Linked DNA regions of Homo sapiens. The protein of the gene in region 1 purifies or fractionates together with the protein of each later gene. This does not show direct contact. Each region holds a gene or a part of one and is shown on either strand. Other genes may lie near its edges.

What was found.
Region 2: the proteins of DEGS1 (region 1) and LSG1 purify together in Homo sapiens (affinity purification with mass spectrometry, with the first as the bait; one large-scale study listed by BioGRID). This does not show direct contact.
Region 3: the proteins of DEGS1 (region 1) and CYP51A1 purify together in Homo sapiens (affinity purification with mass spectrometry; one large-scale study listed by BioGRID and IntAct). This does not show direct contact.
Region 4: the proteins of DEGS1 (region 1) and NUDT21 purify together in Homo sapiens (co-immunoprecipitation; one large-scale study listed by IntAct). This does not show direct contact.
Region 5: the proteins of DEGS1 (region 1) and SUPT6H purify together in Homo sapiens (affinity purification with mass spectrometry, with the first as the bait; one large-scale study listed by BioGRID). This does not show direct contact.
Region 6: the proteins of DEGS1 (region 1) and POTEE purify together in Homo sapiens (affinity purification with mass spectrometry; one large-scale study listed by BioGRID and IntAct). This does not show direct contact.
Region 7: the proteins of DEGS1 (region 1) and UFD1 purify together in Homo sapiens (affinity purification with mass spectrometry, with the first as the bait; one large-scale study listed by BioGRID). This does not show direct contact.

Annotation. Positions count from the first base shown.
Region 1 is NC_000001.11:224,186,240-224,189,739, reverse strand, and holds part of DEGS1 (sphingolipid delta(4)-desaturase DES1), read right to left. Parts: intron 164-3,500; coding exon 1-163. UniProt on the Homo sapiens protein: Has sphingolipid-delta-4-desaturase activity. Converts D-erythro-sphinganine to D-erythro-sphingosine (E-sphing-4-enine). Catalyzes the equilibrium isomerization of retinols.
Region 2 is NC_000003.12:194,665,692-194,669,191, reverse strand, and holds part of LSG1 (large subunit GTPase 1 homolog), read left to right. Parts: intron 1-2,619; coding exon 2,620-2,740; intron 2,741-2,902; coding exon 2,903-2,989; intron 2,990-3,500. UniProt on the Homo sapiens protein: Functions as a GTPase. May act by mediating the release of NMD3 from the 60S ribosomal subunit after export into the cytoplasm during the 60S ribosomal subunit maturation.
Region 3 is NC_000007.14:92,111,653-92,114,565, forward strand, and holds the end of CYP51A1 (lanosterol 14-alpha demethylase), read right to left. Parts: intron 2,192-2,913; coding exon 2,013-2,191; 3' UTR 501-2,012; downstream 1-500. UniProt on the Homo sapiens protein: Sterol 14alpha-demethylase that plays a critical role in the cholesterol biosynthesis pathway, being cholesterol the major sterol component in mammalian membranes as well as a precursor for bile acid and steroid hormone synthesis.
Region 4 is NC_000016.10:56,444,833-56,448,332, forward strand, and holds part of NUDT21 (cleavage and polyadenylation specificity factor subunit 5), read right to left. Parts: intron 3,158-3,500; coding exon 2,957-3,157; intron 1,858-2,956; coding exon 1,794-1,857; intron 1-1,793. UniProt on the Homo sapiens protein: Component of the cleavage factor Im (CFIm) complex that functions as an activator of the pre-mRNA 3'-end cleavage and polyadenylation processing required for the maturation of pre-mRNA into functional mRNAs.
Region 5 is NC_000017.11:28,686,205-28,689,704, reverse strand, and holds part of SUPT6H (transcription elongation factor SPT6), read right to left. Parts: intron 3,367-3,500; coding exon 3,290-3,366; intron 3,052-3,289; coding exon 2,916-3,051; intron 2,618-2,915; coding exon 2,480-2,617; intron 2,402-2,479; coding exon 2,234-2,401; intron 1,615-2,233; coding exon 1,487-1,614; intron 1,017-1,486; coding exon of another isoform or gene 971-1,016; exon of another isoform or gene 866-970; intron 352-865; coding exon 144-351; intron 1-143.
Region 6 is NC_000002.12:131,247,536-131,251,035, reverse strand, and holds part of POTEE (POTE ankyrin domain family member E), read right to left. Parts: intron 259-3,500; coding exon 188-258; intron 1-187.
Region 7 is NC_000022.11:19,469,194-19,472,693, reverse strand, and holds part of UFD1 (ubiquitin recognition factor in ER-associated degradation protein 1), read left to right. Parts: intron 1-885; coding exon 886-1,007; intron 1,008-3,500. UniProt on the Homo sapiens protein: Essential component of the ubiquitin-dependent proteolytic pathway which degrades ubiquitin fusion proteins.

The DNA.
Region 1 (3,500 bases):
TGGTTAATGCAACTGCCAAACGCATAGGCCCCAAATATGACCCATTTCCAGTCCAAGTCTTTTACTATGTAAAATGCACCCAACTGGGTGAGAACCATCATAATTATAATCCATATCAAATTGGGATCAGGTTTCATCAAGGACTTTATCTCTGGATACTTTGCTGTAAAGAAAAAACAAAAAAACAGGAACTAAGAAAAGTATGTAATAGTTCACCAATTATAATTAAATTAACACCAATTAAACTAACACATTAAATTTGTTCTGTAAATCATATTCCCTTTACTAGAGACTTTAGTGGATATTTAATAACACAGGGAAGGATTCTACTAGTAAAGTTATGAAATATCATGTCACAATAATTTGAGAATTTATGCAGGAAAAATTAGCCTCAAAGTTTAGAAGTTCCACATTCTTTATATTAAAATACATGTTATTTCTGTGTTTAGACAGAGGTACAGCATTCTTACCTTATATAAAACGATTAAATTAACACATCTGACAAAGGATAGAATATAATATACATTTTGTAGTTACCCTAAAATCATGAAACTGGTATTCACAGTTTTCTCAGACAAATCAACATGCTCCAAGTAATTCTGTACTGAATTTTCCCAAAATTGTAATAGTATATAAAAACCAATACTACAGGCTACCAATATAATCAGGGAAAGAACAGTCCTTTCAACAAATGGTGCTAGACCGACTTGTTATCAACAGGCAAAAGAATGGATTCAGACCCCTACCTTACACCATACACAAAAATGAACTCAAAACAGATCACAGACCCAAATTTATAAGAAAATTATAAAACTCTGATAAGAAAACATAGAAATAAATCTTCATGGCCTTTGTGGTTTCTTAGATACTATAACAAGTACAAGTGACAAAAGAAAACAGAGAAATCGGACAGCATCAAAAACTTTCTGTTGCACATGATACTGTCAAGAAAGTAAAAAGACAATCCACAGAAGCGGGGTTATGTTTGCAAATCATGTATCTCATAAGGGACCTATATCCAGAATATATGAAGAACTCTTACAACTAATAATCCAATTAAAAAATGGGCAAAGGATCTGAACCCACTTTTCTCCAAAAGATACGGAAACAGTCAAGAAACACATGAAAGAGGCTCAACACCGTTAGTCATTAGGAAAGTGCAAACTGAAACCATAGATACCACCTCACACTCACTAGGATGACTATAATAAAAAAAGGTAGGTAAAAACAAGGATGTGGAGAAATTAGAACCCTCATACTTTGCTAGTGGGAATATAAAATGGTGCAGCTGCTTTGGAAAACTGTACAGCAGTTCCTCAAAATGTTAAACACCTGGTATATCCATACAAAGGAATATTATTCAGCCAGAAAAAGGAATCATACACTGACATATGCTATAACATGAATGAACCTTAAAATATTATTTTATTGAAATATTATTTTATTGAAAATATATTATTTTAATGAACCTTAAAATATTTAGAGACAGGGTCTACCTCTGTCACTCAGGCTGAAGTACAGTGATGCCATCATAGCTCACTACAGCCTCAAACTCCTGGACTCAAGTGATCCTCCTGCCTCAGTCACCCTAGTAGCTGGGACTACAGGAGCATGCCACTGTGCCCAGCTAAAATATTATGCTAATGGCTGGGTGCAGTGGCTCACACCTATAATGCCAGCACTCTGAGAGGCCAAGGCAGGAGGATCACTTGAGCCCAGGAATTCAAGATCAGCCTGGGCAACATAACAGGACCCTGTCTCTACAAATTAAAAAAAAAAAAAAATTTATATTATGCTAAGTAAAAGCCAATCATAAAAGATCAGGTATTTTATGATTTCATGTATATGAAATGTCCAGAATAAGCAAATCTATAGGCCACAAAGTAGATTAGTGGTTACCTAGGTAGAAGCAGGGGATATGAGGGACTGCTAATGAGTATAGGGTTTCTTTTGGTGATGATGAAATGTTCTAAGGTTATATGGTGGTGACAGCTGCACAACTCTGTGAATATACTAAAAAATACTGAACTGTACACTTTAAATGAATAAATCATGATAGTTGAATTATAATCTCAATAAAGCTATTGGCCAGGTGCTGTGGCTCACACCATTAATCCAGCACTTTGGGAGGCTGAGGCACAAAGACTGCCTGAGGCCCAGTGTTCAAGACCAGCCTGGGCAAACAGATTCTATTTCTACCAAAAATAAAAAAAATTAGCCAGGTGAGGTGGCACAAGCCTGTAGTCCCAGCTACTTAGGATGCTGAAGCGGGAGCATCACTTGAGCCCAAGAATTTATGATCACACCACTGCACTCCAGCCTGGGCAACACAGTGAGACTCTCTCTCAAAAAATAAAACATTAAAAAGCTGTATCATGTTAAAGTATAACAGTGAAGGAACCATTTCTTGTGATTTATTCTTTTTTTTTTTTGAGACGGAGTCTCGCTCTGTTGCCCAGGCTGGAGTGCAATGGTGAGATCTCAGCTCACTGCACCCTCTGCCTCCTGGGTTCAAGCAATTCTCCTGCCTCAGCCTTCCCAGTAGCTGGGATTACAGGCGCCCACCACCACACCCAGCTAATTTTTGTATTTTTAGTAGAGACGGGGTTTCACCATGTTGGCCAGACTGGTCTTGAACTCCTGACCTCAGGTGACCTGTCCACCTCAGCCACCCAAGGGCTGGGATTACAGCCATGAGCCACCCAGCCCAGCTCATCCTCACGAATTTCAAACAGATGCCTTGTAAATGAACTTTTAATGTGAACTCTAAATGTAAACTTAAAGTGTACAATTGTTGGTTGTTCTATCAGGCCCCTTCCCTCCCCCGCCAAAAAGTCAATACTTTCAGAAAGATCTCTTATCATTTGTGTATAATTTAAACAAATCTAAAGATTCTTTCTACAGGTTATTCCATCTCCCACCCTGAAACAGAACATGAGTTAGTATTTACACCTGCATGGAAAACATTGTACACTGTATTTTCATTGAGAAATATGTAGTCCTTCTTTTTTTTTTTTTTTTTTTTTTGAGACGGAGGCTCACTCTGTCGCCCAGGCTGGAGTGCAGTGGCACCATCTCAGCTCACTGCAAGCTCTGCCTCCCGGGTTCACGCCATTCTCCTGCCTCGGCCTCCTGAGTAGTTGGGACTACAGGTGGCTGCCGCCACGCCCGGCTAATTTTTTGTATTTTTAGTAGAGATGGGGTTTCACCGTGTTAGCCAGGATGGTCTCGATCTCCTGACCTCATGATCCGCCCACCTTAGCCTCCTAAAGTGCTGGGATTACAGGCGTGAGCCACCATGCCCGGCCAAGAAATATGTGGTCCTTTTACTTTCCCAGTGAAATGGTTCAGTGATAAGTCTGTGGGGGGAAAAAAGGCTCAGTGTGAGGTAAGTATCAATCAGCACCTTCTCACTTCCTTCATCTCTTTTTCTTGAGACAGTCTCACTCTGTTGCCCAGGCTGGAACGCGGTGGGGCAATCACGGCTCACTGCAGCCTCT
Region 2 (3,500 bases), on another chromosome or scaffold:
ATATATACTGTCTTAGCAAATTTCATATTATTAACTAATAAATGTGTTATTATTAACTATGGACACCAGGCTGTACATTAGACCTCCAGAACTTATTCATCCTGCCTCAGTAAAACTTTACCGTTTGACCAGTATCCTCCTATTTGCCCCACTCCCTAATCTCTGGTAACCACCATTTTCTCTCTGCTTCTATGAGCTCGGCTTTATTCCACGTATAAGTGAGATCATGTGGTATTTGTCTTTCTGTGCCTGGGTTATTTCTCATAGCAGAGTGGTTCATTCATATTGTCACAAGTGTCAACATTTCCCTCTTTTGTAATGCTGAATAGTATTCCATTGTATACTACATATACCACGTTTTCTTTATCCATTCATACGTTGATGGGCATTGAGGTTGGTTCCATATCTTGGCTCTTGTGAATAGCGCTGCAGGGAACATGGGAGTGCAGGTATGTCTCATGGGTACATGAGATTTCATTTTTTAAAAGATCACTGATGAATTTTAAGGAAGCAAGATGAGTTAGGAGACTGTATCACTTTAGTCTAGCAAAATAGGCCAGAACTGAAATACAGGTAGTAGAAGAAGGGAGAAAATAAGAGGAACAAGAACACTTAAGGAGCTAGAGTAAACCAGACTTGATGGAGAGGGTAGTGTAAGTGAAAAAGAGTGAAGGGACAAAAATAAACTCCTGGGTTTCACAGTGAAATAACCACTTCACCCACTAGGATAGCTAAAATAAAAGAGACTATAACAAATGTTGGTGAGGATGTAGAGAAATTATAACACCATACATCGCTGTGGGAGTATAAAATGGTGTAGCTGTTTTATAAAAAAATTTTGGCAGTTCCTCAAAAGGTAAAACATGGAATTACCATCTGATCCAGCAGTCCCACTCCTGGGTATATGCCCGAAAGAAATGAAAACATGTCTACACAAAAATATGTGCATGTGTATTCATAGCAGCATTATTCGTAATCACCAAAAAGTGGAAACACCAAAAAGTCCTAAAGAGGCAAATCTACAGAAAGTAGATGATTTCCACCAGGTACCTGGGGGTGTACAGTGACTGCTAATGGGTAAAGCTTTCTTTTTGGAGTGATGAAAATATTCTAAAATGGATTGTGGCAATGGCTGCACAACTCTGTGAATATACTGAAAATTATTGAATTGTATGCTTTAGTGGGTGGATTGTATAGTATGTGAATCATATTGTAGTAAAGCTATATATATATATATATATATATATATTTTTTTTTTTTTTTTTTTTGAGACGGAGTCTCTCTCTTGTCGCCCAGGCTGGAGTGCAGTGGTGCGATCTCAGCTCACTGCAACCTCTGCCTCCCAGGTTCAAGCGGTTCTCCTGCCTCAGCCTCCTGAGTAGCTGGGATTACAGGCATGCACCACCACCCCTGGCTAATTTTTGTATTTTTACTAGAGACGGGGGTTTCACCTTGTAGGCCAGGCTGGTCTCGAACTCGTGACCTTGTGATCCGCCCACCTTGCCCTCCCAAAGTGCTGGGATTACAGACGTGAGCCACCGCACCTGGCTGCTATTTTCTTCTTAAAGTCATTAGTAATATCTGCCAGAACAGTTTTAGTGGAGTGAGAGAGCCACAGCTGGAATCTAGAGAAACAGGAAGTGGGAGGTGAGGAAATCAAGGAATGAGCAAGTTGTATTCTCCTGAGATAGCTGACTATGGCAGGGAAAGAGAAGTGTAAGGGTGTGTATGAGAAGGATCAGGGTTAATGGTAGTATGTTCTTAGGTTATGGGGTGAGACAGTAGAGAGGGAAGTTGGAAAGATTTGTTTTGGCAGTATCTGTTCGAAGTTTACAGTTGCAGGCTGGGTGCGGTGGCTCATGCCTGTAACCCCAGCACTTTGGGAGGCCGAGGCGGGCGGATCACCTGAGGTCAGTAGTTCGAGACCAGCCTGGCCAACATGGCAAAACCCCGTCTCTACTAAAAATACAAAAATTAGCCGGGCGTGGTGGTGCGGGCCTGTAGTCCCAGCTACTCAGGAGGCTGAGTTGGGAGAATTGTTTGAGGTTGCAGTGAACCGAGACTGTGCCACTTCACTCCAGCCTGGGTGACAGAGTGAGACTCTGTCTCAAAAAAAAAACAGAAGACAAAGAAAGCAAGTTTACAGTTTCATATCCTATGAGCCAGCACCTCTACTTCTCAGCATCTACCCCAGAGCAGCAGAATTGCCCGGAGAACTCTTTCATACAGATTCCTGGCCCTATCCTCTAGACTCCAGAGCATCTATTCAGTGAGTGGGGGTTAGAGCTGCAGCATTTACATTTTTAACAAGCTACCAGATGATGCTGTATTTTAATAATGAAAACTTGGAAACTGAATGTTCAATAGCAGGGAAAATGTGATATAGACACAGTATGAAATACTGTGTGGCAGTCAAAAAGAATGTAGTAACTCTGGATAGTTATTTGGTATAAAACTTCATTTGGGAATAATAATTTACCCAAGGCTAGAAGAATCTAAATCAAGAAATCTTAAGTTCTCTTAGGCTCTCATTTTTAGTTTTCTCAGTTTATCAGTATGACCAAACACTCTGTATCTATACTGCCTCTTAAGTAATAGTACTTTTCTTTATTTGAACAGAGAAACTTAATATTAAGTTTGTGCCTGCTGAGGCTAGAACTGGACTACTGTCTTTCGAGGAGAGCCAGAGAATTAAGAAGCTCCATGAAGAAAACAAACAGTTCTTGTGTATACCGAGGAGGTGAGCTGAAGAAGAATTTAGAATGCCACAAAACATCCGAGGCTGCTGAGTATTCATTTTTTAAATTGCTTCTTTTTCTCAGCTGCCATTATTAGATCCAAATTACCTATTTTATTTTGGTTACTTATATGAGGAATTTTTTTCCTTCTATGATTGTTTCAGACCAAACTGGAACCAAAATACTACCCCAGAAGAACTCAAACAAGCAGAGAAAGATAACTTTCTAGAATGGAGACGTCAGCTTGTCCGGTGAGTATTATAGACTCTATGAAGACTTACTTTGAAATCCTGAGTTCAGATATTTGGCATGCTTACACAGCCATTTGTGTTTTGAAGTTTTGATTCTTTTAAGAAGGAAATGGTAGCATTCTGCTAACAAGTGCAAATAGATGTATGCACAAACAAGATTGCTAGGTGCAAATGCATCCTTGCACAGAGATCGTGAGTTGGTTACTCTGCTCAGTTCCGGGCCTTTTCCTTTCATTCCCTTCTTTGGCCATTGGGCATCCTGGAGTTGATCGCTGCTCTCCTGCACATTTTTCCAGTAAGAGTGTGGGAAAGAAATGACTTTGTGTGATAGGTAAACTTCCAGGGCATAAATAGCTTCAGGATAAAATTTGAATTTGGTGGAGTATTGTCTAAATAAATAGTATTTTTATGGTGTCTCAGCAGGAAATATATAAAATAATTTGACTCTGGATATTTGTGCCCAGTACTTATTTTTAATGTAATAAATTTGAGCATTTACACTGCTAAAAAT
Region 3 (2,913 bases), on another chromosome or scaffold:
CTTTTTCAGCTAGCATGGCTTGCCATTCAAGGCTATTCTGCTCTAAGAGACAGTGGAGAAAAAAACAGATGGACAAATGATCTGATCAAGCTGAGTTCAGTGCCATTGTTTGACCACCACGCCTCCTTATGATAGTAGGCCTCTGCAATCACACTTGTTTATGCATCTCAATAATTAATTAGTCTGTGATTAAAAATGAAATCTGTTAAGAAGTCTAAAACTATTCACTAAACATTAGACTAGCCTTATCTCGGGGTCGTAACTAGATACTTCAAGAAATCTGTAACATCTGTAATATGAAAATATCTGAGATTTCTATTGACAAAATCATGGATACTGCTAATAAAATGCTGCCCAAATTCATAATTGAAATAAATACTAAATTGCAGTTAGAAATTATTAGTGCAAATAAAGATGTAATTTTTCCCCACCCAAGTTCCTGGATTCCCTAACTCTGCTCACTGAAGCACATATTTTACAATTCATGAATACAGACTGTATTTTTTCAAAGAGAATTTTAATCTGAAAAATTAGCAGAGATTCTGCCTTCACAATTAGAGTTTAACATGAGTCTTCCAGTGTTTTAAAAAGAACTGTAATATACATAAAGCAAAATATTTTGGCATCACCTAGTGAAAACAGACGATGTGGTATTTTTTCAGCCATCTCATATAGTTAGGCCCCGAGTTACAATTTGAGATAAGTTGATTCCTAAACAGAATGTGCTTTACAGAATGTGACCAATTTTATTACTCCCAAGGACCTTGTTTCAGATTATCTTAAAACCAGAGTTCACTGATCTCACATTTTAAAAAGAAAAAAGTTTGTTAACTGTTTTAATCAATATGAGTAGTAACAAACATCCCTAATTGGATTCTAGAGAGGAAGCAGGGAAGGCCAGGTGCGGTGGCTCATGCCTGTAATCCCAGCACTTTGGGAGGCCAAGGCGGGTGGATCACGAGGTCAGGAGTTCAAGACCAGCCTAGCCAACATAGTGAAACCCCCGTCTCTACTAAAAATACAAAAAATTAGCCAGGCATGGTGGCAGGTGCCTGTAATCCCAACTACTTGGGAGGCTGAGGCAGAGAATTGCTTGAACCCGGGAGGCAGAGGATGCAGTGAGCTGAGATCGCACCACTGCACTCCAGCCTGGGCAACAGAGCGAGACTCCATCTCAAAAAAAAAAAAAAAAAAAGGAAGCAGGGAACAACTGAGCCAAAACAAAATTATCCCCTAAGGACTTGACTTTGGACTTCCACATAAATGTGACCTTGTAGAACTAGATACATATTTATCAGGTAAATAAATATGTAATTATTTAGTAATTAGATCAAGATACATGAGCAGTCTTTAGCATTAATAATTACATTATTTTTAGGAACTCTTATCAAATATGGTCCTGGATCTCTTAATTTCCCATATGCAGTGATTTTAGTTAAAATTCCAAAGGATTTCTTTTTCCTATAATATCTCCATTTCTGAGTATCATCATACCAAAACAATTAGTATTCTCTTATTCAAGGCTTTAGATGTTCGATTATTCCCTACCCTTCCATCCTCACACACACAATAATTGCCCAGATAAATAATAATAAACTGTGGTTTCCAAGTATCTCACTGGGATTTTTATTCTTTATACCTTGCAGGACTAGTCCAAGATTTGAATACCCTGAACTTATTTGGCAAGAGCGATGAGTACTCTTAAAATTACTATCTGGAAATTATATTATTTAGAATCTGCCAATTACCTAGATCCCCCCTCAACAATTGTTTCACCAAGGAACTTCCTGAAAGCACATGTATAAGTATCATAACTATTAGAAAATGTTTCAAATGCTATTATATTTGATAGAACCATTCAGTTAACAAAATCCTAAATCATAAACTGGCTTTTAGAATTACACACTTAAAAAAACAGTAAACTACAAGAGTTGTTTTGTACACTTCATTCTCTTCGAATGCCTTTGTGGCTTACAGTGATAATCACATATATTCGTTCCTTGCAACCTTTTTCATTTTGATCTTCGTTTGTAACGGATAACTGGGTTTTCAGGGGTGTGAATCATAGTTGTATAATTCACAGTGGGAAAGTATCCATCAATGAGATCAAATTCATATAAACGAAGCATAGTGGACCAAATTGTCTTAATTTGAACATAGGCAAAATTTTCCCCAATACAACGATGACGCCCTAAAAAAAAGAAAAAGTTATAAGAATCAGTTTAAATTCTTTCTCATCCTTTTTAGCCTGGGGTGATATTATCTACATTTTAGATGAACAGCAAATGTACAGATAATATAATAAAAAGATGACATTCTTTTCACATAAAACAACATGAATTATTAAAAATTCCAGGAGATTTTCAATACCACATTTTAGGAAAACAGTACTTGACTGATCACATAACTTTTCCAATTACTTTTTCTGAAAATATATATCTGGGTTAAATATATGGAAAGTTTGAATCATAAGATGGTAATCTAGTTTGGGAATATAGTAGAATATTCTGTTTGTCCCAAGAAAGCCCTAGTTAAAAGTCAATATGAAAACCTTCCAATCAAACCTCAAATGTCATTATAAATGTATGGAAGAAAATGAGATTTAATGAACCCAAAATAATATACTAAAAAGTCACACCCATGTAGAAACTGACAAGCTGATTCTAAAATGCATATAAAAATGCAAAGGACCTAGGATATCCAAAGCAATCTTGGAAAAAGAACTGAGTTGGAGGACATAAAACTGATTTCAAATCTGACTTCAAGACTAAAGATAAAACAGAGTGGTACTAGGTAAGGATCAACAAATAGATCAATGGAACAGAGCAGAGAGCCCAGAACAGAATATTTTTATGGTTATTTGATTATCAGTACAGACACCAAAGCAAGCCAATGAGGAAAAGCAAGTCTTTT
Region 4 (3,500 bases), on another chromosome or scaffold:
CATCCCAATCTGAAACTCCAAAATCTCAAACTTTTTGAGCACTGACATGATGCTCACAGGACATGCTCAGGCCGGGCGTGGTGGCTCATGCCTGTAATCCCAGCACTTTGGAAGGCCAAGACAGGCAGATCACCTGAGGTTAGGAGTTCTAGACCAGCCTGGTCAACATGGTGAAACCCTGTCTCTACTAAAAATACAAAAATTAGCTGGGCGTGGAGGCAGGCACCTTTAATCCCATCTACTCGGGAGGCTGAGGCCGGAGAATCGCTTAAACCCGGGAGGCGGAGGTGACAGTGAGACAAGATTGCACCATTGCACTCCAGCCTGGGTGACAAGAGAGAGACTTCGTCTCAAGAAAAAAAAAAAGGAAATGCTCATTGGAGCATTTCAAGTTTTGTATATGGGATGCTTAACTGGTAAGTATAATGCAAATATTCCAAAACCTGAAAAAAATCCCAAATCCTAACCACTTTTTTAATTTTTAATTTTTTTGAGTACACAAGATGTTTTGATACAGGCATGCAATGCGTAATATTCACATCATGGAGAATGGGATATCCACCCCCTCAAGCATTTATCCTTTGTGCTACAAACAATCCAATTATACTCTTTTAGTTATTTTTAAATTTACAATTAAGTGATTATTGACTATAGTCACCCTGTTGTGCTATCAAATAGCAGCTAAACACTTCTGGTCCCAAGCTCTCAGATAAGGAATACACAACCTGTATAAATATACTCCATATATACTTTGAACCAGTCCAGTTTTCAGCCCATGCATGCCCCCACTTTCATAAGTACCTAGCACCTTCAGTTCCTCAGTCATTCTGGTACTCTGCAATGCTAGATTCTGCCTGCCTGTCTGCTGGACTAAGGTTTCTGCTAAGTTAGTTATAATTTGCCCATCTGTTTTCCAGTTTCCAAAAATTTTGCTTTTGTGATTCTCTCATTTTGCACTCCCTCAACCTTAATGGACTTATATCTTTGTACCATACATTATATAAATGGAAGTCCAAGCACAGGAAAATGTTTAAGAGTTATAATACATTTTTAGAAATACTAGAAAGACAAACCAATAGGTCAAAAGTGGGAGAATTACGGGTGACTTTAGTTTTGTTTCTCCTTTGCTTTTCTGTGTTTGCCAAGCTTTTTGCACAGAGAATATATGAGCTTTGTAACAGGGGCAGGCGGCAATTGAATGTTAAAGAAGAAAACTAACATTGAAAACAATTTACAATCTCAAAATCCTCAGTATCTATGCATTTGGCCCCAAGTCTTTACATGCAGGCATTACAATGATTTTTAAAAAGTAGAATAATTTGGGCAAAGTCTAAAAAATATGTGAAAAAAGTGAAAACACAGGCATCTTTCTCTTTTCAAAATTCTATAGAGGCCTACTCTTGAACAAAACTACCTGCATTCAAACCTCTGGCTCTACAACACACTAGCTATATAACAAGAAGTAATTTAAACTTAATAATATCTACTTCCTACAGTTGTGGTGGTGATTAAAGGAATTAGCGCATGTAAAGCACTCAGAACAGTGTCTAGCACAGTAATACTTAAATGTCAGTTTTAATTTACCATTGCTGTGACACAGTTTAACATTTTAAAAATTGAAATAAGTGTAACTTCAACTTGTAAAAAAAAATCAACATTGTACTAACCTTCTGGAGTTTAAGTTGTATTTATTGAAAACTAAATATTCCAAAATAAGCATCCTTTTTACAAGACATTAAAAGCCAAATAACTAGTAAGTTGATGGTATTCAAAGTGGTTAAACAGAAAAATACCTCTGTCATTAAGCGTTTTAGTCCTTCAACTTCATCTTCTCCTGGGTTAAGTTCACCACCAGGTCTGTATAAAAGTTAAGAATTTCAGCTTTCAACTTAATACAATTTGGAGATAACAAATAACACAATAATTGTTATTTCTACCAAGTCACTAAGAACATATTTCAGCATAATAAGGCAATCAAAACAAGTATCAAAGTGAAGGGGGAGAATATGCTTGAATTCATGTCAATTCCCCAGACTAACAGTATACAAACCCTAGGTTTTTTTCCTCTTCGTATATATTTATTTTTATTTTATTGTAGATTCAACGGGTACATGTACAAGTTTGTTACATAGGTATATTGTGTAATGCTAAGGTTTAGGCTTCTAGTGAACCCATCACTGAAACAGTGAACATAACATCCAATAGGAAGTATTTCAACCCTCGCCTCCCCCTCACCCTCCCCACCTTTGGAGTATACAGTGTTTATTTTTTCCAACTTTATGTCCATATGTACCCATCACATAAACCCTAGTTTTAAACAAACAGAATATATAACATAGCACAAACATAAACAAAATTGCTAACCACCAGTCCATCCCAATCTCCTCTCTGGGAGCTATCTGATGATAATGGAGTCTAGAAATGCTCAGAGAGGAATGGATCACATTCTTTAGGCCTAAAGAATGGGAAACTTTTTCAAGAACGTCATCTAAGTATTGGAGACTTTTCTTTTTGGTATAATCTAGTCAAATAGTTACGGATCAAATGTTTGAGAGATGTAGGAGCTTAAATGATAAAACACTAAACTGTTATCCACAAAAACCTAAGTCATCTTAAGAACAGGAAATGCTAATCATACCAAGAAAGAAATATCAATTGTTCTTGGTAATGCTACAATGACATCTAGACATTGATCTTGGACTCAACTATTCCATGGGGTTTCTACCAAGCTCAATCATTAACATCAACAACATACAGAAACATACAGATTACTAGTTAGGAAAATAAATGAGCACTGCAATGGAGAAAAATTACTCATGATTTTCTCTTTCTAAAGACATCATTAACAGCAGTGTTTGTTGAAATGAATGACCGAGGGCTAAAATTGTATTCCAGAGCTGCATAAACAGCAATCCTACTAAAAACTGTCTTGCTGTTAATTTCCAACACTACTTACAGTTTGAAGAAAGTTGTTCCCAGCTGCAGCAGTAACACATGGGGTAGCCGGTGCTCATGTACAATCAGAACCCCTTCTACAGTCCTCCTCATTCCAATTTTATCAAATTCTTCCCTCATGCGCTGAAATCTGGCTGCAACAGAGCTGTCCTTCTCGTAGAGGGGCTCTTTTGTACCAAAAGTATAATTGGTAAGAGGGTACCTGTGATCCGAAGACAAACATCTAACATGAGAACTGAAGAATGTAATTTACCATGACAGACATTAGCATAAAGAAACCATGGTACAAAAAAAGTGCATATATTGTACTCAGACACAGGATTTGTACAGTTAACTAAAGTTAATGAAACAGCAGAGACTGGAATCTTGCTCTCTGGACTCTTAAAGCCAGAGCTTCCATTAGATCAAGCTGCTCCTCCATACTTTAACTTTCAAGTGTAGATAACACTATCCTTAAATGCTTAGAGAAATGGTTATCTGAACATTAGTAATCCTCTGGTTTTATACCATGGCTGCTATTTCAACATTACCAATTTGGCTAATAA
Region 5 (3,500 bases), on another chromosome or scaffold:
AGTAGAGCAGGGCAGGGAGATGAGGATCAAGTCTGCCATACTAACAGTATCAGGCTTTCTCTGCACACTCACTGCCCAAGTCTCCTACCAACCTGGCCACTTGGGATGGGTTCTCCTGCCGGGCCTTCCATGCTGTCCCTTACCTGCCTCTCCAGCTCTTCTGCAAAGGCATCAAGGTCCAGGTCTTTCAGTCGCTCTGGGTTTTCCAAGATTTCTTCAAGGGCTCCTGCAGGATTGGCATCCTCGGCTGATTCATCGTATTCCAGGGCATCCACTGCCATCTTCCTAGCCCACTCATAAGTCTCAGGGTGGACACGGGAACCATCAAGGACTTCAATATATGAGTCAGTGCTGGAGGAAAGGCAGAAAAGGAACAGGATATAGAACGATAAGCTTCTAGTAACAACCCAAATGTCCACCAATGGGGAACTGGTTAAATAAATTAGGGCACCTCCATACAATGGAATACTATACAGCCATTAACAAGAATGAGGTAGATCTATGTGTGCTGACATGGAAAGATGGCCACAATATATTGATACGTGAAAAATGCACTGCAAAAACACTATGAACCATATGATCCCATTTTTGTAGTAAATGGGTAGTTAGTAAATGCATAGCAAAAATAAAATTTAGAAAAACTGTAGTATACATAAAATTGTTATGGTAGTTATCTCTGGGGGGTGGGATTATGGGGGACTTCCACTTTCTGCATAATATTTCTATATGTTGAATTTTATATGATGAACTTATATGAGTCTCATAATAAGATAAATCAAGAAAGGGGAAAAAAACCTTTGAAAATTTGCTGATAGCTATTTTCCCCCATAAAGCCTTCCCAGGCTGGTCTTGCCCGTGCACTCACATGGACCTATGTTATTCGTGGAGTGTTACAGCAAAGCTGAGTGGAAAATGAAGTTTTAGAACTTGAAGCCTATTTCCCCACTGATTTCCATTACTGAATGAGGAGCTATGTGCCCGTGGAAAAGATCCTCCAAAGACTGAGTTGATAACTTCTGGAGAGGAAGAGGTCAATAGTGAAGTCCAAAGTCCAAGTGAATAGAACTTTCTCTTAATAACATCATCTCAAAACATACCAAATCTCTCTCCCCCTTCCTTATCTCTTTATACCCCCAAACTCCTTTTTCATTGCCCCCGCTATTCCCACCCTTATCTGGCCACAACAAACCATAATAATAAAAAAGCAAGTTTGTGTTTACTGAACAAAATCTTGTGTTTTCCATGCTTAATTTATAAGCTAAGCTGGTACTTTTTATGTTTCTCTCACACGAAAAATGTTTCACATGATTGAACCGATCTTTTCCATAGGTCAGGGGCTCTTGACTGAATAAAGTTCCTTACCTTTTCTTTAAAACATTTCCTAAGTTAAAATGGCTTGTGGCCCTTTGATAGCCCTAACCCCTGAAACCCGAAAACAAAGCCCACAAGGGAATTCCTCCTGCCCCATCCAGGCAGAGGGCATCACCTGTCCCCCAGGGAGGCCGTGTCGATCTTGAGGAAGCCAGCACAATTCATGAAGACTTTGGGACCCATGTGGCACATGGTGACCAGCTGGGTCCGGCTCTCGAGCCGGGTGTTGTTCTGCTTCAGGATCTGGGGGAGAGAGCTGGACTGAGCCAGGGCAGTAAGCAGGCCCCACCTCCCCAGACTGTTCCAGTCTCTATTAAACCCTCATAACAAAAACTCTGTCCCACCCAGTATCTAGTTGAGCACTACAGCATGCTATCGACCACTCAAAATTAAAAAAAAAAAAAAAAAAGTTTTGCTTTAAATGGGAAAATAATAAACAAATAAATGATGTTATACCTACACCAAAGACCATATACAACTAATGTATGGCTTATAAGTTACAAGTTAACACTAGTTGGCCGGGCGCAGTGGCTCATGCCTGTAATCCCAGCACTTTGGGAGGCTGAGGCGGGTGGATCACCTGGGGTCAGGAGTTTGAGACCAGTCTGGCCAACATGGTGAAACCCCGTCTCTACTAAAAATACAAAAAATTAGCTGGGTGTGGTGGTGCAAGCAGCAGTGAAGGGCACAGCTTTGGCCAACTGGGTCTGAAGTCAGACTCTTTTGACTCTCACTAGCTGAGTGATTTTGGACAAGTCACTGACCTTGGTCCTCCCAATCTGTCAAATTATACTGACAAAGTATATATTCATATTCAATGAAATGGCAAGTTTTAAAATTTCTGAATTCACTCCAATCCTACCTTCAGGAGGTGGGTCCCTTTCCGAGGTCCCAGGCCACAAACATACTGGATCAAGGCCTGGCTGTAAGGGTGGGCAATGGCACGGTTGACATCGACCCCGACCTCATTGACTCGGTTGATAAATTCACAGTACAAGGCGTTGAGCAGCTCCTCTTTCACCACATGCTCCTGTGGACATTCAGCAGGCAGGAGTAAGGTTACTCTGCCTTTCCCTTCACCCGAGCCTGCCTGTCAAATCCTACTCACCTGCAAGGGGTGAAACTTGAGACACAGGATGTCTTCATCGGAACTGCACACCTGGGCAAATTCAATCAGAGGGTCCTGGATGCGCCGGGCCAGGGAGACGGCCTGTCTCAGCACTGGAGGATAATCCCGGAACTCTGCCTAGAGTCAAACGAGGGTCAGCAGGGCCTTAAAATCCCCTTAGCTACAACATCAAGAGGAAATCCAAACCATTCTGGTTTAAATCATTTTCTCTGCTTCTCTGGGATCTTTTTTCCTGAGACCGATTTAATTTCTGGGACTCCCAATCTGAACCGTAACTGCAAAACGGAGAACTTCTGCATGGATAAGTACACAGGTACAGTCCTGTGCCCCTGATAACTTTTGTTTCCCAATTTAATCTCTTTGGGATTAATAGCACTTGCCTGGGCAGGCCCTAAGGGTGAGGCTCCAGCATTACCTCTGACTTCTTGCTGTTCATATAGAGAATGGCCAACTCGTTGTCAACCAGCTCTACCCCAATAGATGACAGCTGCTGGCCCTGGTCCAGCTCATGTACAATGCGCTTCACATCTTCAATCAACATCTGGGCGTCCCTGGTGGGATGAGTGTTGGTCAATGAATATGTTTTCTTAGGGATGGACAGTCTCATGACTGCCTTGGGGGTGAAGAGGTAGGGGAGGAAAGGGCTTTGAAGAAAATGAGGTCAAACATCCCCAGGGACACTCCCTGCACAAGCACAAGCCCCATCTGTTATGGGCATATGCCAGACTCAATAATAAGGGATGAGTTGGGTCACGGCCTTAAACCAGGTGTGGTCTAATCCCTACCTACCTGTTCTCTCCTGCAACTGTCACTACATGAGGCTTCTTATTCAGGAGAAATTTCTTTAGCGTTTCAATGTCTTGAGCCTGGATTGAAAGAAAATTGAAGCTGAATGGCTCTGAGGATGTAAAGATTTCAGGAAATTCTGTCTCCCTATGTTGGAGATCTTGTAAGAACTGGAAGTCTTCAGAAGATATCTGGTCCAAGGTGCTACCAAGGA
Region 6 (3,500 bases), on another chromosome or scaffold:
CCTCAGCCTCTCAAAGTGCTGGGATTACAGGCGTGAGCCACCTTGCCTGGCCAAAAGATTCTTAAAAAAACAATCTACTGATTCTCAAAGCCTAGTCTGAAAGGTAATTTCATTTGGACTATCTAATATTATTAAGGCAAAAAAAACACAACATTAAACAAAAGTTTAAATTTAAAAGTTTCCATGCCTCTGGCTGGCCATTTTCACTGCCTTTAAGCCTTTGTGACTCTTCCTCTGATGTCAGCTTTAAGTCTTGTTCTGTTGAAAAATCCATACATTCAGTTAAAATCAACCACTTAAAACAGTTAAAAACTATTGCCTTTTAAAAACAGATTTGAGACATTTCATTTTATTTCATAAATTGAGTGTTTCATCTTTTGTGAAATTGTCATTTAAGAAATAATTCTCAAAAACTTCAAAAACCCACTTGGGGAGATAGCAGATGTCACCAGATTGAAGACAAACAAACATGTCAAAAATTCCCTCACAAATTCATCCACCCAACATCCATGAACAAAACCACCAGAAACACAGCTTTAAAATACAGTAGAAACATATAAGGTGACACAGTGTACTGTTCTCCACTTCCTAATAGTACCTTATAAATGATTTCCAAAATCACTGCTGACACCTTTATTAGTGTACAACATCTTCCTAATATCTAAAATGTTTCTCTCCACTATTCTGACAAATTTATTTTCTTTTTTTCTTTTTTCTTTTTTTTTTTTTATGAGCTAGAGTCTTCCTCTGTCACCAGGCTGGAATGCAGTGGTGTGATCAGCTCACTGCAACCTCCGCGACCCTGGTTCAAGTGATTCTCCTGCTTCAGTCTCCTGAGTAACTGTGATTACAGGCAAGCACCACCACACCCAGCTGATTTTTGTATTTTTAGTAGAGATGGGGTTTCACCATTGGACAGGATGGTCTCGATCTCCTGACCTCGTGATTCCCTCTGAAAGTGCTGGGATTACAGGTGTGAGCCACCACACCTGGCCTTATTTTCATCTTTTGAAACAATGCTATATGAAGTTTTCCTTGATTCTGCATGTCTTTCCCCAAATAAACAGGTACCTCCTTCCTTGAGGCTGCCTTAGTACTTTACTGATTTTTCTACTGCATCTTGACCACCTAAACTGTACATTATTCCTCCACGTCTGTCCCCTCTGCTCCAAGACTGCAGGGGAGAGTCTTGCACATCATCTTTGTAAAAACAGTCTTTGTTTTACTCAGAAATATTTTATTGAGTCCTGCTAAATACATGCTAGGCATTAGGGTTTAAAAAGAATTAAAATAAAGCATGTCAGAGATGGCTTTTCTAGAACACATGCCCAAGCAGAGACTTAAATATTGAGACTAGCCAGATTAAAAGGTGTAGAGGGCAGGAAAGGGTGACGGCATGCCACGCAGCAGCAAGAGCGGGAGCGACTCCTGAAAGAGTGAAAGTATTTGCCTACAATAGAAGGATGAGTGAGTAGGGCACTGCCAGCAGTTCAGTAATGCCAGAGACAGGGCACACAGGGAAAAGGGCTAAAGATGGAGAGTGGGGCAGAAGTCAGATTATGAAAGCATTATGTGTAATTTTAAGATGCTTGAACATTAATGTTCAAAAGTGGTCCCGGGTCCTATCTGCATTTAGATATAGATCATTTCAATGCCAAAACCAATATTCCTAGTGAACAATTATTCATTAAGACAAGGTGACAGATAGCTCATGTGGACACAGCTGAGATGATACAATGTAGCAAATTCTAAACAATTCTCATGAACACTTGGAAAGTCAGTTCTATAATAAAGTCATACAAATTATAATAAATCAGTAAATATTTGGTTTCGGAAGATGCTTTGTAAAGTTATAATGCATATGAATACAATTAACAGTCGTGAATTCAGAGCTGTGAAAATAAATCAAAGAAACCACATTGTGTTTGAGTCAGCAATCTTTAGATTTCTATCCAGTCTTCCCATCCAGTCCATAAATTCTAAGTATAATCCTGGTACTCACTCTCAAGTTTACGTTAAATACTATCCCATTACAAAAAAACACTCTTTCTCTTACTTCTTTTCATTATGTCCTGCTAAAAAGATTCTGATTGGCTGCAGGCGGCAAGAGGGAAAAACACAAAGCACATTTTGCAGAAAATGATTATTTAGAAGTCAGAACTATGACATGAAGCCAAGCAGGGCACTCTAGGACCGAATTTGCTGTGCTGCCTTCATACGCTCCTTGCTCTTTCTTTTCTGGCAGCTGTGACTCACACAGGTCATGGAGAGTATCATTCCCTAAGAGGAACAACTCCGATATTCATCTTTATCTATTAAGTTCATCTGTCCCAATTCTGTGTTCTGTGGATGCTGACTTTCTGTCACGGACGATGATGCACATGGACATTTATTACTGACTTTCAGATTCTTGGATCTTTGACAAGTCTTATTACTTAGAGTCAAACTAGTAGGATGCGAGTTATAAATGCTGATTATCCAATTACCTACTCAAAATACCCTACACGAATATTCCATTAAACATGCATCGAAAAACATTAGTCATTCCTGCTGACCTGCTGCTCTTTGCTCTTCTGTATTCACCAGAAAATTTCCTACTCCTTCCTCATGTCCAGGTTAAATACTAGTGTGCAATCTGGAAACCTGTACATCATCTGAGATTTCTCTCTGTCCCCCAAGCCTTTCTCATTCAATTATCACTAAATCATATTGACTATACCTCTCTTCTGCCTCTGTTTTATATTCCCACTGCCACTGGGAACACAAACATTTACAAAATGACTTCTATTTAAAAGAAAACTGCCAACTATTAATGTTATTTCTTACAGGAAAAAAAATTAAGCAAAACAAGTGAAAAGGGCATAACGAAGGCCAACATAGTAAAATGAGTAACTGAGATTTCTAACGTTATTTATTTCACCATGGACGGGTGAAAACCTTGTAATACATTGATGCTACTCCAAGGATGTGTGACATGGAAACTATAGCTGACTACTGCAAAAGCTTCCTTTGTCTCCTGGTTTCTTTGCATGATTATCTCCCATCAATCCCAGGAAACTATAGGCCACAGGCCAAATCCAATCTGCATTATGGTTTTGTAAATAAAGTTTTATAGGAGCTCAGTCATGCCTGTTTGCTTACATATAATCATGGTGGCTTTCACACTACAACAGCAGACAACAGCACGGTTAAGTAGATATGACAGAGACCACATAGTCCAAAATATTTCCCACCTGGTCCTTTAAAGAAAAAGCTTGCTAACCCATTTTACACCATAACCAGAATGCCTTAATACTCAAATTTAATCTTGTGGCTCCCCTGCTCAAATTTCTCCAATGAGCCCCCTCCAGCACACATTGTTGGCTCCCTATCAATAGCCATTCCTCATTCTTTCTGGCAGAAAAAACATAAGTCTATTGGGATATTTAATATCCCAATCCCCCTCCTCAGCCTCAGAAAGAAATGTTTATTCTAAGCTAATCAGATATTTACCTTCCCAG
Region 7 (3,500 bases), on another chromosome or scaffold:
AACAAGGGCCTTACACATGGCAAACACCATCACTACCATCAGTTCCTTCTCGGTCTTCTCCCGGGGGCCCAGTGTCTCCTGGGTTTTCCTGCCTCTTTTTGCCAGCCCTTCCTTTATGTGCCTGTGCACCTCTTGGGTCAGCACGTCACCAGTCCAGCTTACTTGCCTCTGGCCTTGCTTTCAGCCCACACCTCAAGGTCCATCAGAGAGAGGGGGCGTCCTATGTCATGACCCTGCTGAGAGCTCACACTGCCCGCTGGGCCCAGGCCCTAGGTTCTACCCCGTGTGGTGCCCCTCCCCTTCCCAACCACTCGCACACCTGTCCCCAGCCTGTCTTGCCTAATTATCCACCATTTCTGAACTGCCTGGGCTCCTCTTCCCTTCCACGCCTTTGCTCAGGCTGCCACCTCTGCCTGGATTTCCTCCCAGGTCTGCCCGCCCAGTGCCCAGCCTAAAGAACTCGGCCTCTAGGAGCCTAGCCCAGTAGCTCTGCCCCCTCCTGCCAGCTCTTCCCACAGCACCTGCAGCATCTGGTTGTGGTTTTCTTTGTTGGAAGGTTTCTACCTTCAAACTAGAAACCTTTGAAGGTCGGGATTTTGTCCAGGGCATGGTGGGCACTGAAATTATTTATGAATAAATGAATGAACACATCACTTTTTAAAATGTTGACTTCAGAAAATCACAAGTCTATGCCAGTGCTGTGTTACCAAGTTGCCAGGTTCCTCCTTGAGCCGTGCACTGTGCTCTCACAGAGGGGGATTCATCTGCCAGAGGAGTGTGGGGTTGAGGGCAGGATTGTGGGGAGGCTCCTTCTATGGGAAGGCGTGGGCCGAACAGGTGTCCCTTCATAGGAGCTGTGCCTCATAGTCTCTCTCTTATTTTCAGGCCGACTTAACATTACCTATCCCATGCTGTTCAAACTGACCAATAAGAATTCGGACCGCATGACGCATTGTGGCGTGCTGGAGTTTGTGGCTGATGAGGGCATCTGCTACCTCCCACACTGGGTGAGTGGGGCTGCCAGGGTCTCTAGAGAGCAGCCACTTAGGCAGAGACATCTCCTGCACTCGAGAGTCCTGGCCCTGGAGCAGGTGGCCCCGCCTACTCCTCCTGCTCAGCGTCTTAGCCTGAGCCGACCCAGCGAGAGAGAAGGGATCCAGAGCAGTGCACTGTGCCTTATGCGGGCTGGTGGGCTCTGGACGCACCTGTGGGCCACTGTGCTGTGGGAGTGGCCTTTTCTTTGATAGTTGCGCAGCTGAACTGTTCATCTGTGATTTCCTGGGTGAGGCGTTTTTAAAAATAATGGAGCAACAGTATTTTTTAGGTGGTCTAGTAAGTAGGGTGTTTGAGGTTTTTATGCTTTTCCCCTACTTTTAGTAGTCTGTCACAGCATACATGTTTTCAGTTACCTCTGACGTAGTCTCCCAAATCTCTCAACTGAGCTGCCATGGGAGTGACGTCTTTTTCCTTACAAGCAGGCTCTCTTTGGAAAGTTGACTTGAAGGATGTCATTGCAGATCTGGGCTGGGATATCCAGGGCGTGTGAGCCACCAGAGCCTGCCCTCAAGGCTGTACCCCTCAGAGAAGTGAGCAGAACTGTGCCAGTGCTGTAGGGAGGAGCCTGCAGCAGTGAGAGTTCCACACAGGTAGCTGTGGCCCACTTGGCTCCTTCTTCTCCTCACTCCTCTCCCCAGCTCTGGCACATTAGGGAAGTTCACAAAGGGACCTGCTTGTCCTTCTCTTTGTGCTTGGATTACATCAGGCATACTGAGAGACCCCGCAGTGAGCTGTGGGCTGGAAACTCTCAGGAGTGCTTGCTTGGCTGCCACCAGGGAGGTGGTCTGAAGCACAGCCCACCTCTCCTGCTGATGCCCTATCATGGTGGCCGCCAGACGTTCAGAAGGGATGGCCTTAACTAATATTTTCTGAGATTAAATATGAATTGAAATTCTGGCCAGGTACGGTGGCTCACGCCTCTAATCCCAGCACTTCGGAAGGCCAAAGTGGGCAGATCACTTGAGGTCAGGAGTTCGAGACTAGCCTGGCCAACATGGTGAAACCCCGTCTCTACTAAAAATACAAAGACTAGCCGGGTGTGGTGGCACGTGCCTGTAGTCCTAGCTACTTGGGAGACCGAGGCAAGAGAATGGCTTAAACCCAGGAGGCTTAGGTTGCAGTGAGCCGAGATCATGCCATTGCATTCCAGCCTGGGCGACAGAGCGAGACTCCATCTCAAAAAAAAAAAACAACAATAATATGAATCAAAATTCTGAAGGTCTCTTTCCTGCTGTAGCAGGTGACCTTGCCCATGCTGCCATGGTAGTGGCATCCTCTTCAGCCTGGGTCCCAGGGTCCTTCCCAAGGTCTGGGCCTGGCCAGTGTCTCCCCGACAAGAGCCCTGCACTCCCATTGCACCTCCTAGTGCCTGGCCTTCCCATGCTGCCTCCTCACCTCAGCTGACTAGGCCTGCCCAACCTGGCCTGTTGGGGGGCTTTTATGCCTCAAAGCCCAGATTGGCTCACCTGCCCTCCCCAGTATTTGCTGCTCAGCCCCTTGCTATTCTTGTGTTTGTCTGCAGGTGCCCCCAAGGGCCTGAGGCCACATTGTGCTCATCCGGTAGAACACCTGGTCACTGAAGCCACTCTAGGTAGCTGAAGTGTCAGGCAGTGACTACTTCCCCAGTCCCTTCTGTGGCTCACCTATAAGAGGAGGTGGTGATGCTGGGGATACACTGTATCTCGAAGGTTCTCCTTTAACCCATAGACTTGAAGTTTGGGTGGCCTCTTGTCCAAGCTGTTGGACTGCTTTAGACCAGGAAACTAATTGAACCCTTTCTCCCCTGGAAAGCCTCTTTAGGTAGCCTGGAGCTGGTTTGGGGTGTGAAGCCATCAGGCCACCTCTTCCCCTGAGCTGGCCTTCCAGCTCCTGGCATGGGCAGGCGGGTGACAGGTATACCCCATCTGCTGTCTTGGAGGGCATGTGAGCCAGTGCTTTTTCTGGGCTGGCTGGTGGACTCCATCCCACCCATGCTCCCAAGCTTCTTCAGGGCGAGCCAGCCTGGAATAGGTACTGGCCTTTTTCCTTGTAGCCAAGGCTTCGTCTGCTGACCTAGATCCGAGCCCTGGACTAGCCGTTTGTGACATGTGGGTACTCGGCTGCCCGTTGTGCTGTATGCTCTAAAATGCTGCATGGGGAGGGCCAGGCATCAGCTCCTCCTGCCTGCTTAGTGCTCTCAGGCCTCTTCCAGCAGCCCATTTCTCACCTCAAGCCCTAGTCTGACCTCTCTGCCTGTCCTCCTCACATCACCTATGGCAGTGTCCTGCCTCTGGCTGAGGAAGCCACCCCCCATCCCTGGCCAGCCTTCCCTCAGGCTTGCAATTGCAGCCCAGTATCCTTCCCCTCGCTGACAAATTTCCCACAAAAATCTACCCAGGGACAGTGCGCCTGGCCTGCGACTGGCTAACTCTGAGCCTTAGAATACTTCCTGTTAGAACATCACT